Homo sapiens: one gene and its partner. The protein of the gene in region 1 interacts with the protein of each later gene in a biochemical or structural test. Each region holds a gene or a part of one and is shown on either strand. Other genes may lie near its edges.

The links. Proteins that work in one complex are often made in the same cells at the same time.
Region 2: the proteins of ASF1A (region 1) and HTATIP2 form a complex in vitro, tested with the Homo sapiens proteins (one study listed by BioGRID).

Annotation. Positions count from the first base shown.
Region 1 is NC_000006.12:118,896,247-118,901,716, forward strand, and holds part of ASF1A (histone chaperone ASF1A), read left to right. Parts: intron 1-4,519; coding exon 4,520-4,635; intron 4,636-5,470. UniProt on the Homo sapiens protein: Histone chaperone that facilitates histone deposition and histone exchange and removal during nucleosome assembly and disassembly.
Region 2 is NC_000011.10:20,373,714-20,377,213, forward strand, and holds part of HTATIP2 (protein HTATIP2), read left to right. Parts: intron 1-2,866; coding exon 2,867-3,004; intron 3,005-3,500. UniProt on the Homo sapiens protein: Represses translation by preventing reactivation of elongation factor eEF1A. May also inhibit nuclear import by competing with nuclear import substrates for binding to a subset of nuclear transport receptors.

The DNA of each region.
Region 1 (5,470 bases):
TTCACACCCAACAGTAATTTTTTTTTTATTGCCAACTGCATATAAAAATAGACAAAAGAAAAACCATTGATCGGTCCATTCCAACTTATACCACACTGTTTTTCAGATATACCACCAGAAGTTCTTCAAATTACAGGTATTTCTCAAGTGTTGCCTTCCATTTTAGGAGTCAGCTCTGAACAAAGAAGATAGATGACTCAGGATGTCGTTACAGGGCTTTTACATTGCATAGATGAAACCAGCCATTCATAAAGCCAAAACGTTCCATTTTTAACTGGGATCCATTCAGAACCCAGCTGAATCACATCAGGGATTTACAGTACTGGTGTCAAAAACATACTTATTTCCAATGGTATATTTCACTTCCTAGGCACCATTACTGAGCATTTATTTAGTATTTTAAAAAATATTTTAAGCTGAGTCATACTGAAGCTGCAAAGGAATCTTTCAAAAAGGTGCCATGCCTGTATACTCCACCTAGAGGCTATGTGGATTAAGGAAATTTTTACTTAGCAAAGGCTTCTAATAGGTTCCATACTTTTATATTACAGTTCTTTTAAAAATTCTGTTCTTAAAATTAAACTATAGAATTTTTTTTTTTTTAAATGAGACAGTGTTGCTCTGGCACTCAGGCTGGATGGAGTACAGTGGTGCAAACACAGCTGCTCCCTGCAGCCTCAACCTGGGCTTAAGCAATCCTCCCACCTTAGCCTCCTGAATAGCTGGGACCATAGTCGATGTGCCACCACATTGGGCTAATTTTTTAATTTTTTGTAGAGACGGAGTTTTGCCATGTTGCCCAAGCTGGTCTCGAACCCCTGGGCTCAAGCAGTCCTCCCACCCCTGCCTCCCATAGTGTTGTGATTATAGTGAGCCCACTGCACCCAGCCCAAACTATAGAATATTTTGAAAAGAATTTTCTTAATAAGTTATTTTGCCTCAAGTCTCAAAGCAGAGTTTGGCCACCGTTTTTCATACTTTCATCAGTAGCCCCAAACGTTCACTTTCCTTTAAGAGCTGCCCTGTAGCTTTGCTTCAGAAAAAGCCTTGAGGAATATTTGGTCTTAAGATAATTTGGTTCTTTCTAATATAGGGCTTATATCAAGGGTTAAGACAGCCTGAGACCCTGGCTGGATGTGCTTGATGGTCACCAAGACTGTACAAGTTTTGATTGACCATCCTGCCATTCTTAAATTTATATATATATATATCTTAATTACAGCTACTGTCAATTGAATACTTATAATATACCAGAATTGAGCATGGTGCTTCATACTTTCCAACTTCAGCTTGTTCTAATTCCAAAGCCTACATACTTTCCACTAGACCACAGGTCTTCCCAAGTAGTGTAATTAGCTAAAAATTCTCTTGATGACTTCCCTCATTCACTCACTCTTTCACCACAAATGTAAATACTTTCAGGCTGGGTAAATCATTTAATCATGATTACTGTGATTAAATAAAAGTTAACTTTAAAATAAATGAACAAATTTCTTCACCTGAGAACTTATGTAAAACATCTGACCTTACCCTTCCTCCCTCAAATACAGGGGGCAGAGGAATTAAATGAAAGCTGGGTTAAAAAAAAAAACAACAAAAAAACTGATGCCAATGTATAAAAGGGTATTGAGCATGTAAAACTCAGCAACTGTAGCAAGCATCCCATAAACATAAAAATCAATGTACAAGTGTTCCCTGAGTTGCAGCCTGTTCTTGTTAAGGCTAGATTCTCTCTCCATCTCCTCTGCTCTCACTTCCCCTGCAAATAAATTCCCTTATTCCACTGCTAATTTCAGAGCTAGAAAGAATTTATCTTCCCAGTTAGGTTTTCAGAAGAAGCCCGGGGTTTGTAGTTACAGAGGCATAGCTTGGATTCTGATTCTTTGATGTACAAATTATGAATTTGTGTAGATTACTTAACCTCTCAGAGTCTCAAGTTATTTGCATAATGGGGATAATTTGATCTACATGATGAAGCTGTTGAGGTTTAAACAATAGGTATGAAGTAGAACTAATGCCCAGTATATAGTAGGTATTTTCTAAAATAGGTTTATAAATTATGGCTATGTTCCTATGCCAGTCCACAAATGCGAATTTATACCACTTAGGATCAAGGGCATTATATGTAGTGATACAATTATATATGAAATTAAAATTCATGAAAACCTTTATGTAATAATTTTTTTTTTTTTTTTTTGGAGACAATCTCGTTCCATTGCCCAGGCTGGAGTGCAGTGGCGCGATCTCGGCTCACTGCAACCTCCGCCTCCAGGGTTCAGGCGATTCTTGTGCCTCAGCCTCCCGAGTAGCTGGGACCACAGGCATGTGCCACCCCTAATTTTTGTACTTTTAGTAGAGATGGGGTTTCACCATGTTTGCCAGGCTGGTCTCGAACTCCTGACCTCAAGCCATCCAGCCACCTTAGCCTCCCACAATGCTGGGATTACAGGCGTGAGCCACTGCGCCCAGCCACTCTATGTGATAATTCTTAGTCTTATCCTCACTTGGCTAGTTTAGTACCTTTCACATCACTTTCTTAAAACAGTTTCTTCACTTGGCTTTTGGGTCACCTACCTCATTTGCCACTTGTTTTGTAACTTAATTTGTCCTCTTATCTTTGGAGGGCTCAAATCTCACTCCCTAGAGCAAGCCCATGTATTTTTATGGCTTTACATATCATTGACAGGTTCCAAATTTTTATCCTGCCTATTCAGTATCTCTGCTTAGAAGCAGACATCTCAAATATGTCTAAAATGAACTCCTGATTGCTCCCCTACCCCACATCACCTCCCTGCAAAAGTGGCTCCTGCTGCTTTCATCTTCAGGATTTTATCCAGAATATAACTGTTGCACAGCCCCATGGCCACACGAGGTCCATGCCACCATAATTTCTTGCCTCAATTATTGAAATATTGTTTCTTCCCTTGTCCTCTTACACTCTATATTGAACACAGCAATCAAAGCATTCCTTTTAAAATGAAAGTTGGCTCCTGTTACTGCTCTGCTCAAAACCCTTCGATGGCTTCCCATGCCACGCAGTGTGAAAGCCAGAGTCCTTATGATGGCCTTCAAAACCGCATGATCTGGCTGTTCCCCTCATCCTCAATCATAGGGTTTGGTGCTTTCCTCCTTCCTTTCATTCTGCTCCAGCCCTAGCCTCCTTGCTTTTTCTTGCCAAGTGTGCCCTACCCCTGGGCCTTTGTATTTGCTGTTCCCTCTGGCGAGATACTTATATTGCCTACTTCCTCTCTATCTCCATCAACAGATGATCTCAGGAGATGTCAGATGCAGCACCCTGCATCTGGAAGTGTGCTGGAAGCTGGAAATAGAAATGGTTTAGTTCTAGGACAGAGCCATGACATAATAGGTCCTCAGAAAATGATTGCTGACTTAATAAGAGAAAATAAAAAAGGAGCTTTCAGTTGATTGTAGTTTACAATACAATATAAATAAGCAGTACGTTACTATTTCTATTATCAATTTAGGGAACAAAAATATCTACAGTTACACAAAAATGGCCACACATGGTGGCACTAACTAGATTGTCATGAGTGACCCAGAAACTCACCCTTTGGGAGTGCTTGTGTAACAGTGTGTTGAATGCAAGAGGCAGGCCACACAGTGCAAAATACCCAAAGAAGATGAAGAGGTCTCTCAGAGATGGTTTGTATTACAAAGTTATCTTCTTCCTCAGCTAAACAGGAGACTCCTCCAAAGAGTTCTACTCATCTCTGGGTTCACTTCACAGAACACATTGTAAAACATGCTCAGTAAAATCCGCTATATTGAATTACATATAACGCCTTGAATTGCACCTGAATGTCTTTTCCTCCTGCCTATCTCCACTGTGTATACTCTATTGTATCACGTGGTGTAAAGATCTTGGTTTCCTCTGCCCAATTTAAAGAATGTATGACACAGGGGGGTGCCGTAAGGGAAAAACCCTACCATTGTTCGTTGACAGTTGATGAGCTGAAGCCACTTACTTCTGAGCCATGAGGGAGGTTTTACTAATAATTTTTCTACTTTGGAGCTCTGTGATTATTTGGATCTCTGCAGCGTAGTATAGGGCTGCCCTTCCAAAGTGTGTTGAGAAGGGCCTTAAAAGATGATATACAAAAAAAGGGGGATTCCATAGCCAAATAAATTTGGGAAGTGCTGGATTAATGTTACTGGTGTTCTTTACTGAAGGATATCTCAGAAAACTTACTGTGCCAGCATGCTTTATGAATCCTCAAGACAAGGTTTACAGCATTTCCCAAGTGTTTGGCTATGTTATCTTGTTTGTGAGGCACTGTCCAGGAACTAGTGTTTCACAAAAGAGTATTTTGAGAAACTCTGATCAAAGTGTGAACTCTGGTAGGAACTTTATAAGGAGCATTTCACTGCCTTTCTGGATTGCTATGAGAAGCCAATTTTAAAGCCAGTAAGTGGCTAAGTGGACATTAAAAGGGTCTTTGATGTCATCTGGTAATGTAATTACTGAATATGAAATAATGCTTTGGTTTTTTAACCCTAGACTTGGAATGGAAAATTATCTATGTGGGCTCTGCAGAAAGTGAAGAATACGATCAAGTTTTAGACTCTGTTTTAGTGGGTCCTGTTCCCGCAGGAAGGCATATGTTTGTATTTCAGGTAAGATTAATCTTGGTAAATGTGTATGCCAAATATGTTTCGAAGTAGACTATATTATCTATTATCTTATAACCCTTATCCCTTTCCTTTTGGGTTAAAGAACTGCTTCTGCTGCATTCACTTTAAATCTGTTTCCATCATGTTTTAGGCAGTCTCTGTGTCACAGAGGAACTCTTACTTCCTGGTTTTATATGCTGAGAGATGTTAATGTGACGTTTACTTTAGAGAGATGAACAACCTACAGTAAATTTTATACTGTATCATGGCACACAGGGTGGTGAATTTGGGGCTCTTCCTGTGAATAGCACCTCAGTATCAGACTTCCAAGGTGGCTGTCTAGCAACCCAAAACATGGATTCAAAATATCTAAAACTAACTGGCATTGTTAGTAATATGCATCTTCAGTTTATGGTTTCAGCCACTGGAACTGATGGTGATGTAACAAAAACAACTTTATTTCAGCATAATCAGTAGTTGAGCTAGGTTAACAGATACGTTTAGTGGATAGAGATGTGTGGTCTTGGGTCATTGGAATGACATTCCAGAGTTTACTAAAGCATCTTATAATCTACATTATCTTATAAGAGGACTACTTTTGCAAATTTACTACCCCACTAGGTATTTGTGAAGAGAATTTCTAGTAATAAAAATTTTGTTCTTAGATACCACTGAGAGTATTTGGATCTATACCAAGGCTTCAGACATTGTCTTCTATATTCAAAAGTGTTATTTCTTTTAATCCATGTTAAATTGCTATATGGAACCATTCAGTTATTCCTCAATTATGCATGCTTATTTATAAGGGAGATGTTTGTAATAGACCAAAGAGTAACTA
Region 2 (3,500 bases), on another chromosome or scaffold:
GAAGAAACAGATGTGGAAGAAAAATTTAGTGTCTTAGAATTTTTCTATGTAGTTTTGGGCTGTTTCTCTTGGCACACTTTCAGCACATCTAAAGTCTCCATTTGGAGAATGGCTCTGAGGGTAATCACTTCTCTCAGGATGTGCTGAGTACTTAAATTGGTTTGCTTTACACTAATTTTAAAAGCAACTGCATGAATTTGAGTCGGTATATAGACAGCTTGGCAAGTCCGTTGTTCAGGACTGAGTGTCAAAGTATACAACAAAAAGTATACAAAAGGAGATGGTGATGACTCGTGAGTAAAGAGGTAAGTTTATATTACCCACAAACTAAGGTAGAAAAAGTAAGGCAGAAAAATAACACTGTCCTCCAGGTGGTGGATATAGTTAAAAATGTACTTGTGAGTGATGGGAAAGGAGGATGAGGAAGGCTTTTACAGTAATGGTAATGTTCTATTTCTTGATCTTGGAACTGGTGGCAGAGCATGTTCAGTTTATGAAAATTTATTGAGCTCTATACTTATGTTTACTTTTATGATACACTTCCATACAAAGTTAAAAAATCTGCATGGGCGTATTGTTTTAAAATTGAATTCTGTATTAGTTTCCTATTGCTGCTTTAATAAATTCCTCAAATTTAGCAGCTTAAGACAACACAAATTTATCATCTTAGAAGTCTGACACGGGTTTACCTGAGATAAAATCAAGGTGTTGACAGAGCTGCATTCCTTTCTGGGAGGCTGTAGGACAGAAACCATTTCCATACGTTTTTCAGCTTCTAGAGGCCACCCCCATTCCTTGGCCTGTGGTCCCCTTACCATCCTTAAGGCCAGCAATGTGGTAGCTGAGCCCTTCTTAGGTTGCATTACTCCAGCCTGCTCTTCTGCCTCGTTCTTTTACTTTTAAGGGCCCTTGTGATTACATTGGGCCCACATGGATAATTCAAACTAATCTCTCTGTTTCAAGGCCAGCTGATTAGCACCCTAATTCTAAACACTGAATTTCTAAAACACTGAATTTCCCTTCCACATCTATTTCTTCCCCTCATGCCAGTTCACTAGAACTCTGATTTTAATAATGTGTTTGTTACAACAAAATGACACAGTTGACTGGTGAAATAAATTCAGTTTTTTTGTTGTTGTTGTTTTAGCATGATTCATCTTGCTTCTGCCTAAATACCATCTGTGATGGAATTCCCCCTTGTCATGTAACATGACATATTCACAAAGATTAGGACGTGGGCATCTTTGAGGGACCATTATTCTGCCTACCACAATCACGGATTAGTCATTTTCATTAGCGAGAGAGGGTGGGGGATAAAAAAGGAACATGGGTACAGTGAAAAGAGCACTGCTCAGAGTCCAGAATCTGCACTCTGCTCTCGGCTCTCCCACTTCCCAGCTAACAGTTCACCCGCCCACTGGACCTTGGTTCCTGTCTATATCATGAGGGGACTGGATGTGATATTTCCTAAGGTACCTTCTAACATTCTGTGAAAGATACACATCGCCCTACCAAATAGAACATTTAGAATCAGTAACTACTGAGGAGCAAATTTTTTAATTAAAAAAAAAAATCAGGCCGGGCGCGGTGGCTCACACCTGTAATCCCAGCACTTTGGAAGGCCAAGGTGGGCGGGTCATCTGAGGTCAGGAGTTCAAGACCAGCCTCGCTAACGTGGTGAAACCCTGTCTCTACTAAAATACAAAAATTAGCCGGACATGGTGACATGTGTCTATAATCCCAGCTACTTGGGAGGCTGAGGCAGGAGAATCACTTGAACTCAGGAGGCAGAGGTTGTGGTGAGTGGAGACCACGCCACTGCCCTCCAGCCTGGGCAACAGAGCAAGACTGTCTCAATCAATCAATCACTGGGGCAGTAGTCCAGTCTTCAGATTTGGAATTCCTACTACTCTAAGACCTCATTCTGTAATTGTGACTACCTATAAAGTTCAGCTTCAATAGACTTTAGACTTGTCTTCAGCTGTCTTGGGTTTGAAGATGCCAGAATTTATGGTGGTCTCAAGAGACTGTTACTCCTTGGAATTCCCTTTTCTGGGTAAAGGTGCATGCTTTTCAGTTAGGCCCTGGAAGTGAGTCTATATTCTGTTATTTGTGTCATTCTCTTCCCTCCCCCTTTTATTGCCACTTAGTTCTGTTTGTTTCTGACTGGATTTACCTTTTCTCTGCTTTCATTGGCGTTTTGTTCATTCATTTTTGGAGCATCTACCATATGCTGGACATGTGCTGATGCTGAGAGATGAATTAAGAAAAAAGACCCAGCCACTGCCTTCACTGGACTGAATCTAGATTGGGTGTCTCCAAACACTTTTGACTAGAGACCCATTAATAAAAACGTTTGAGGATGCATTCTTTACTAATGTGTGAGGTACATTGTAGAGCATACACAAAAATTGGGAATTAAATAGACTTTGTTCTCTTAGTGCCTGGGGAGTGTCCTCACCCATACTCGGAGACCCTACCACATTAGAATTGACACAGAAAACAGGAGTGTAAAGTTGTGAAGTTATTAAGACAAAAAAAAAAGTCTGGCTTAAAAGTAGTTTCTCAGCCTGATCTTACTGTTCCCTTTGTTCTTTGCAGATTTGTTTGGTGTCTGTGTTTCAATGTCATTGTCCTTGTTTCCTTATTGCAGTCCAGTCTTGCTGCTAAAGCTGGTGTGCCTATCCAGAGGACCAGACCTGGAGCCTTTCCCAGGGTCTAAGCCTGACTTTCATGTATTGCTTGGACACATTTTATTTAGATCTCCATCCTTCTAGGCCTCCCAGCCTGCTACCCAAGCCAAGTAGTAATCTTTAAGATGAACTTGCTGCTTTTTGGAAATAACTCATGTCCTTTTCCCCCTTAGGAGGGATTTGTTCGTGTTGACCGAGATTATGTGCTGAAGTCTGCAGAGCTGGCAAAAGCTGGAGGGTGCAAACATTTCAACTTGCTATCCTCTAAAGGAGCTGATAAATCAAGCAATTTTTTATATCTACAAGTTAAGGTTTGTGCAAGTTTCTGTTTTTCATACACTTTGGAGAACCCTAGCTATTTGGCAGTACTAAAGAATATAAAATATTATATAATACAAAAACCATCAAATGCATCATATTATGCATTTGTATGGCTACGGGACTGCAGGAATATATTTAGTAAACAGGAATGATTGGAAAGGTAATTTCCAATGTCTTCCTCTCTATTAATTATCCAGCAACAAATGGAATGAGATATGGCATCTCCAGCCTTGACTGTCAGCATGGCAGCTTAGCATTGGAAGAGACTTGGAGGCAGTGATTCTTAAACTTTTCCGTCAGTCTCCCTAATGACTGAGCGGAAAGAAGAGCTTTTATTTGTGTAGAGATTTGGAGAAATCTATCCTGAAGCAGTATTCTAGTTACAGACTCAACTTTCTTTTCTTTTTTTTTTTTTTGAGACAGGTTCCCAGGCTGGAGTGCAGTGGCATGATCTTGGCTCGCTGCAGCCTCTGCCCCGCCAAGTAA